2 linked regions of the Homo sapiens genome follow. The protein of the gene in region 2 interacts with the protein of the main gene of each other region in a biochemical or structural test. Each region holds a gene or a part of one and is shown on either strand. Other genes may lie near its edges. The genes, in order: SIRPA and ARHGEF6.

Region 1 (3,821 bases), on a different chromosome or scaffold from region 2:
GATAGACAGGAGATCTGAGATTGTCATGGAGGGGCAGCCCAGCCAGCGCAGCACTGTCAGCAGAGCCATCACAAGGTGACACCATAGTTGAGTCTTGAAGGAAACAGGAAAGTTAGCCAAGAGGAAAAATGATCAAAGGGGTCCTTCGAGGCTGCTATTGAAGCATGAAGTACATAACATCAAATGCCACCCCCCCCCCGAAATATCTGGTGGGCAGATGAGTGGGTACATGAGGGCAGGGCAGTGAATTAGCCTGGAGGCAGCACGTCAGACCACGTGGGACTCTGAGCAGGGCGATGAGTTGGACTTGAACCAGCCAGCCAGTGGGAAGCTCCAGGAGGGCTGGAGGCCAGTAGTGTGGGGACAGATCTGCGTGATCTTCCCCAGCAGACGTGCCCCTGCTCCTGGAGGGTTCTTTCTGTGGCCACGTGGGGCTTGTCATGTCTCAGAACTGCTTTCAGAGCCAAGCACTCATGCCAAATCCATTAATAACCCTGCTGCCAAGCCCCACTGCTCATTTCTGACATTATCCATGCTAACATCCCCGGGGTTGCCGGCTTGAGAATTTACACAACTTCTGCCAAGCCAGTGGCTCTGGTTTGCTCATCACCTTGACCGTGACCCTCCAGTGAGTCAAGTCATGACCTCCAATTACAGAAGCAAGTGCACGAACAACTTCTTTGATTAACTTGGACATCTTGGTCTTTTTCTTTTCTTTCTTTAATGATGATACATAGATGTTTATAATACAGAACATTTGGAGAATATGGGAAACTAAAAAGGAGAAAAAAAATACCATGCAAAGACCACTGCAGTTTGCATTTTGCTATGTTTCCTTCCAGTGTTATCCACACATTTTTCATAATTGAGATAATCCTACAGAGAATTTTCCTTTTTCACTTATCATTTTAATGTAAGCAATTTTAACTTAAAAAAAAAACCTCCTCATAAACCTTTTAAATCTTTATCTGTGGATTTATCCTAATTTCCCTAACCAGTCCCAATTGGCAGAGCCCTAAGACATAAACCTCCTCCCCCATCCAGCCCTTGACAAATGCCTTTGTGTTGAAAGCTTTTTCTATATTTTGAATTCCCCCAAAAAAAAGTGCAATTATGAGTCAAAGGATGAGGACATCTTCCAAGCTCTTGATTTTGCCAGCTGCTTCCCAAAAGGATTGTACTGGTTTGCCTCTCCCACCAGTGACGTATGAAAGCTCCAGTTCATTTCACCATAGCTTCCCCAGCACCAAGTATTATAATTTTTAAAGATCCTTGCCAATAGAGTAGGTTAAAAAAATGATAGTGCATTGCTTAGAATTCCTTTTTAGTGAGATTGACCCCTTTGTCCAAACATTTGATATGCAGTTGTATTTCTGTTATGAGTCCTTCGTTCATGTCCTCAACCCATATAGAAAATGGAGCCTAAATGTTATTCTTATCAGTTTGCATGAGCACTTGAGATAGTGAGGGTATTTTTATCTGTGTGTCTCTTTCCTTTTTAGGTTGCATGAGCCCGAGAAGAATGCCAGAGAAATAACACAGGTACAGTCCTTGGTGAGATGCCCTTCCTGGGAAACTCCGTGGCGTGGTTGCTTCACATCAACCGGAATTGCAGATCTGGTTCTAAATTAAGACTCCTTGTGGGGTGGAGGGTGGAGGATCTTACACTCCTAGCTTTCCCCATGTCCTGTGCATATTCCTTCTCTCTACTGCAGCCAAGAGTGGCTGTTGCAGCCTCATGACTCAGTGCGACCCATTGCACAACTCCCCAGGGGCACCATTCACAATCCGTCCTATGAAAATGGTGCCCTGGAGTCAGGCTGCAGCTCCCTTAGTGTGGATCGTGCCTTCCCATCTCTCTACATTTGCCCAGGCCCATCCCTCTACCAGGAGCGCCACTCCCAGCTCACTGCCCGCTCCTCACAGCCAGGCTTTTCTATGCTGGAACTGCAAAGCCCAGCCTGCCAGGGCCTCTCCCACCTTTGCTGATGGAAAGACCCCATGTCATTAATTACCTCACACAAGGGCACACTCACTCAAGCTGGAGGTTTCTGGTCAGCATTGCTGAGATGATTTTGCAGCAACACGGTTTCTGAGAAACCTAGCCCTGCTTATCACCGGCTGATGCTGTCAGACCTTGAAGGCAGAGGGCTGCTCAGCATCTTGTAACAAGACAGGCCCTGCTCTGAACCCGGAACGAGAGCGCGCCAGCTGTCCTTGACATTTCCAAGGCAGTTGTCATCTTTTTAGATGTAATCTGTTGAAGGAGTCGGGCTGGTGAAAGGCGCAGCATTTGTAGACCAAAATGCCTTGGCCCTGCCCTTGTGACCCATGGGGTCCCCCCGCAGCCCCGGACATGAGCTCGAGTTGTAATTAAGAAAAAACAATTTCCAGTCATGAGCGAGGGAGATCTTCTCCCCCATCATTTTACTTCTGGACTTCCTCCTGGAATCTTCTGGGGGAAAAAAATGATGGTGAGAAGAATGGGTCATGGAAACCTCTACGAAATTCACAGCAGAGACTTACTGGGCACCCACTGTGTGCCACGCACTGGACAGTGAGCCAGACAGTCACAGCCCAGCTGGCAGAGTGCCTGCGATTCCAGTGCCAGGTGCCAGCCCTGGCCAGGGAGGGAGTTGCACGCTGTCAACACGGATTTCCCAGACAGAAGCAAATGAGAGCACGCAGGGCTCAGGACAGAGGAGCTGTGTGCTAAGAGCACAGTCGTAGAGTCCAACACACTTTGGTTCTTTGCCAGCCGGACAACTTTGTCCACTTTATTGAACCTCCCTTGGTCTCAGTGTCTTCAGCCGTAAAGTGGAATAGATAATCCTTCCCAAGCAGGGTTGTGGTAAGAGTGGATGGGGTGATCTATGTGATTGTGTGCTGCTTGTAAGCCCTGAGAACTGAAATCAGCCATTACCGTGCACCAACTAGGAGGTGTGCCGGTTGGTGGTAGCTTTATTCTGTTCTATCACGCAGGGGCCAGTCACAGAGGGAGCAAAGTTTATCATTCATGATGGGCGCTTTTGAGGCGGCAGTGGCAGGTTGATAGGATTAGCACATGGGAGGTATCCAAGTTTGCTAAGTGGTTAATGATTGCGAACATTTATTGAAGACAGATGCTCAATAGGTACCAGGCTCTGTTCTAAACGCTTTACCTGGATAATCTCATTCCATCCTCACAGCAACCCTGGCAGTAGACACTATTATCATCCCCTCTTTACAGATGGAGAAACTGAGGCCCAGAGAGGTTAAGTGAATTGCTCAAAATCCCTGAGCTAGAACCAGGATTCAAACCCAGGCTTTCTGACTCCAGAACGTTTCCCGCTTCACTAACTGGCGATCTCGTTCTTATACTGCCCCTGTTCTCTGTCTCCCTGTCCCCAGCTTTGCCCTGAGTGAAGGTGAAATTATTGCCATCCACTCATATATTCATTCAATATGGATCAGACTTCTTATGTGCCAGCCTTGGTTTCTGAATCATAACAAATGCCCAGTGAATATTTGTGGAATAAACGCATACATTAATGAATGTCCCCACACGTACCACCATCAGCAGCACCTCCTCAGGCCCCCAAACAGACATGGTCCTGGGTAGCGGGCCCTGTGATGGAAAACAAACATGGGCTGAGGAAGCACAAAGAAGGAACATGGACCCTGCCAGGAGAGGGGAGAGCCAGGGAGGGTCTTAGTATGAGCCATGCTTCATCTGAAATTTACATGGTGGATTGGGATTTGTTACAAGGAGAAGCAGGACAGACACCCTCGAGGGATGAACATGAGAAATGGGTGAAGACTGCAGGTGGTTCAGGCTAGGA
Region 2 (3,821 bases):
GACTCTATTGTGAACTACTACATAGAAATACAAGCAAGCCTCGGAAATTTAAATTCAAGGCTTACATGATAAAATCAACAAAACCTACCTTGATGACACAAGGAAAACAAAAATCCCCCCTCGCTACCTTGCTCCTAGGCCTTCCCTGAAAGCATGAGCAGCGTGAGGCAAGAAAAAGAGAATGGTTCTATTACCCGAGAAAATGATTTTATATTTTATTACCTGCTTCAGTTCTCTGACCTCGTCCTTCAAGGCGTAAACAGTATCAACAAGGCTCCTAGAAAATAAAGATAAAATTCAGAGACAAATGGCTTGCACTGAGGTACTGTTAAAATACTTAACAATAAAAGCCACTTTATAAAAATACAGATCCTGAAAAACAGTGGACTTTCTAGCTGATTGGGAATGGTACTGCTCTAAATGGTTTCCATCTTCTTGACTTTGATGGAAGAACAACCACCACCACACATGCTTAGCTAAATGCAATGTCATTACACCTTTTCTATACTTCCCTCCTCCTTTTCTACTCACTTCCCAGCTTGGGTGAACAAAACACAAGAGACTAGGGCCCGTCACTAAGTTTTTCTTTTTCTAGCTTTGTTGAGGGATAATTGACAAAGCTGTACAATGTGATGTCTTGATATATGTATACATTGTGAAGTGGTTACCATAATCAAGCTAATTAACATATCCATCTCCTCACATAGTTACCTTTTGTATGTGTGTGGTGGAAATCTACACTCTTAGCAAACTTCAAGTATACTCCATTGTAAACTATGCAGTCTTCCCTCCCTCGGTATCCATGGGGTATTGGTTCAAGGACCCCCATGGATACCAAAATCCACAGATGCTCAAGTCCTTAACATAAAATGGCATAGTATTTGCATATAACCAATGCACATCTTCCCATACACTTTAAATCATATCTAGATTACTTATCATACCTAATACAATGTAAATGCTATGCAAATATTTGTTATACCATATTTCTTAGGAAAAAACAATATGGTATAACAGTGCATACATATATCAAGACATCACATTGTACACCTTTGTCAATTATCCCTCAACAAAGGCGGAAAAAGAAAAACTTTACTAGGTATGAAAAAAATCTGTACATGTTCAATACAGATGCAACCATCCATTTTTTTCTGAATATCTTTTTGATCTGGGGTTGGTTGAATCCACAGATGCAGAGCCCACGCATGCAGAGGGCCAACTGTAGTCAACATGCTGTACATTAGTTCTCCAGAACTTATTCATCCTGCATACCTGAGATTTGGTACCCTTTGACCAACATCTCCCCATTTCCCCTTTCCCCTCAGTCCCTAGAAACTACCATTCTGCTCTCTGTTTTTAGGAGTTCGACGTTTTCAATTCCCGTCATAAGGTTTTGATTTCTCTAGCTTTGGGGCAGGAATGAACATCACCTATCATATAATGAGAGGTATCACAAGATTGCCTAGTCTACAGTATCTGTGCTATGACATTGCCCTTCCCAGTTCTCTGACTGCACATGACACAAAGTCAGAGGCATTCTTTCTGGAATATCTCAACCATACAGTACCCAAAAAAGTAATTTTTTGGTAATTACTGGGTTGCAGAACAGCCTTTTCCTCTCTGGGTCTCTCCCTGGACAAAGATTTTGGAGATCTAAGTTTTGGTTCTGATCCTGCCACTTACTAGTCCTCTGTTCTCTGGGAACCAGTTTCCTTCTCATCCTCTCTTGGTCTTAGTTTCTTTACATGTAAAATGGGGATAATAGCACATTTTCTGAAAACCTCACAAAGTTGTAAAAATGAATATCGTTATAATAAGAATTAACTAACATTATTTATTGAGCTAGCCTTTATACTTATTTCACTTAACCTCACAACAACTCTGAAAGCATTACCGTCATCCTTATTTTACAGATGAGGAAACTGAGGCACAGAGAGGTGAAGCAACTTGCCCCAGGTCACACAGCTAATGAGTAGCAGAAGTGGGAGTTGAACCACACTGTTTTTTGCTTGAGCCCAAGTACTTAACCATTTTGCTGTATCACTTCACACATCAGATGTAAAATGCATTGACAATGCCAAGCACCTTGAAATATGCTGTCCTATGCAAATTTAGGCCTGACTTCAGAAATGACTCAAGTTTAGACAAATGAATTATTTGGCTACTTTGTGTTAATTTTATGAGCCAGAAGGTACTTAACCTGATTTTCCCCCATTAGGTCACCCACACTACTGTGTAAAGGTAAGTCAGAGACATAATTTCCCTGAACTTCCTGTACCTCAGTTTCTTTATCTGTGAAAGTGGTGAGAGTAATGTTTATCTAACCGGATTGCTGTAGGATTTTAAATGATGTCAAAAATGTGAAAGCACAGCTTCTGACTCAAAACATGTGAGTGGCATCTCTCCGGGCAAGGAAATTGGTTCTGTGGCTGGAATTCCCAGCCACTTCCTAAACCCATCCAGGGCATTGATATTCCCATGTGCTCAGAAGCAGCTTACTGGATGGGGAGCTGGCTGCAGGGGCAGCTGCCAGCTGGAGCTGCCTTGGAGGGCTCTGTCACCGCTGCTTTTCCTTCCTCTTTCCATTTGTTAGTGGGCAGCCCTCTAAAGTCTCCCAAATGCATGCACAGCAAAGCAGGCCGCATTCCCAGGTAAGGAGGAGTTGTCCCTCATCATAGACTCTCCAGGAGCTCCCCGTCCTACCAGACCTTCTTGCCAGCCCCAAGAGAAACTAGGCAAGGTTTTGCCTGCTCTACTCACTTTTCTTCCATGATGGTCTGGCCGTTGCTTCTGGTTTCTTCAATGATGAGTTTCTCTTCCTCAGGGAGTAGGACTTGTGGAATGGAATCTTTTCGAGTACCTACAAACAAGGGTTGCAAGATGGGGGAGGAGGGAGAGTTACTAGTGAAGAGTAGAAATAGTGGGTGTTAGTTCTTTTCCACTATTGTTACAGAAGGGTCTTTGTTCATAGCATGTTGCTACATTACACCCAGAGGACAGTCACCCATCATTTGCTGACTAAATTTTCCTGACATGAGAAATTCTAAATGGCCAAATACACTGATTCAATCTTCCCGAGGTGGGAAGCATTTTGTATTCAGAAAAATAATGCAAAAGAGCCCCTGTAATACCTGTCCACAACCAAGACCTCCATTCTTTCCTGTTTTGCCTCCTCCAGAGCAAAGAGCTGACCAGTGATCACTCTTCCCTGCAAATCTCCAAGGAAGGACACACTACATCCTATGCTACAGTGTTTTGTCATTGTAGTAAAAGGTTGACAGTAGCACTGCACTGAAACACAATGTGCTTAAAGGGCCTCAGAAGCATCATCACCCCCATTTGTTCTCTTTACAGTCTTATAGGGTAAGGTAGGTATGTCTCCTAAGACCATTTTCATCAAGGGTGGAGTGAGGTTTGGAGATTATCACATCATCAGCAAAGATGTAGGTGTCCTCTGCCCAGAATGTCTCCAGGCTCTGGGACAGAAGAGGTGACAGAACAGGCATGGGGGCCCAACCAAACAGCTCTCCTGCACCTCCCTCACTCTGGATCCTCCCTCTCAGAGCTCAAGTGCTTAATCTTGGGTCTCCCTGAGCCACTGGCTTCCTCTCTTCTAGGCCAAGTTCCTTCAGAGGTGTGCACACTCACTGCCTTCACTTGACCACCTCCCCTTTCTTGAGGTAAGATGTGTCTCTGCCTTCTCCAGGGCCTAGCACTTTGTAGGTGCTTAATACAGGTGGCCCCCCATATCCACATGTTTCACATCTGTGGATTCAACCAACCGTGCATTGAAAATGTTCAGAAAAAACAAAAAACAATAC

The links.
Region 1: the proteins of ARHGEF6 (region 2) and SIRPA form a complex in vitro, tested with the Homo sapiens proteins (one large-scale study listed by BioGRID).

The regions. Positions count from the first base shown.
Region 1 is NC_000020.11:1,933,213-1,937,033, forward strand, and holds part of SIRPA (tyrosine-protein phosphatase non-receptor type substrate 1 isoform 1 precursor), read left to right. Parts: intron 1-1,502; coding exon 1,503-1,542; coding exon of another isoform or gene 1,543-1,554; intron 1,555-3,821. UniProt on the Homo sapiens protein: Immunoglobulin-like cell surface receptor for CD47. Acts as docking protein and induces translocation of PTPN6, PTPN11 and other binding partners from the cytosol to the plasma membrane.
Region 2 is NC_000023.11:136,669,260-136,673,080, forward strand, and holds part of ARHGEF6 (rho guanine nucleotide exchange factor 6), read right to left. Parts: intron 2,861-3,821; coding exon 2,761-2,860; intron 278-2,760; coding exon 223-277; intron 1-222. UniProt on the Homo sapiens protein: Acts as a RAC1 guanine nucleotide exchange factor (GEF).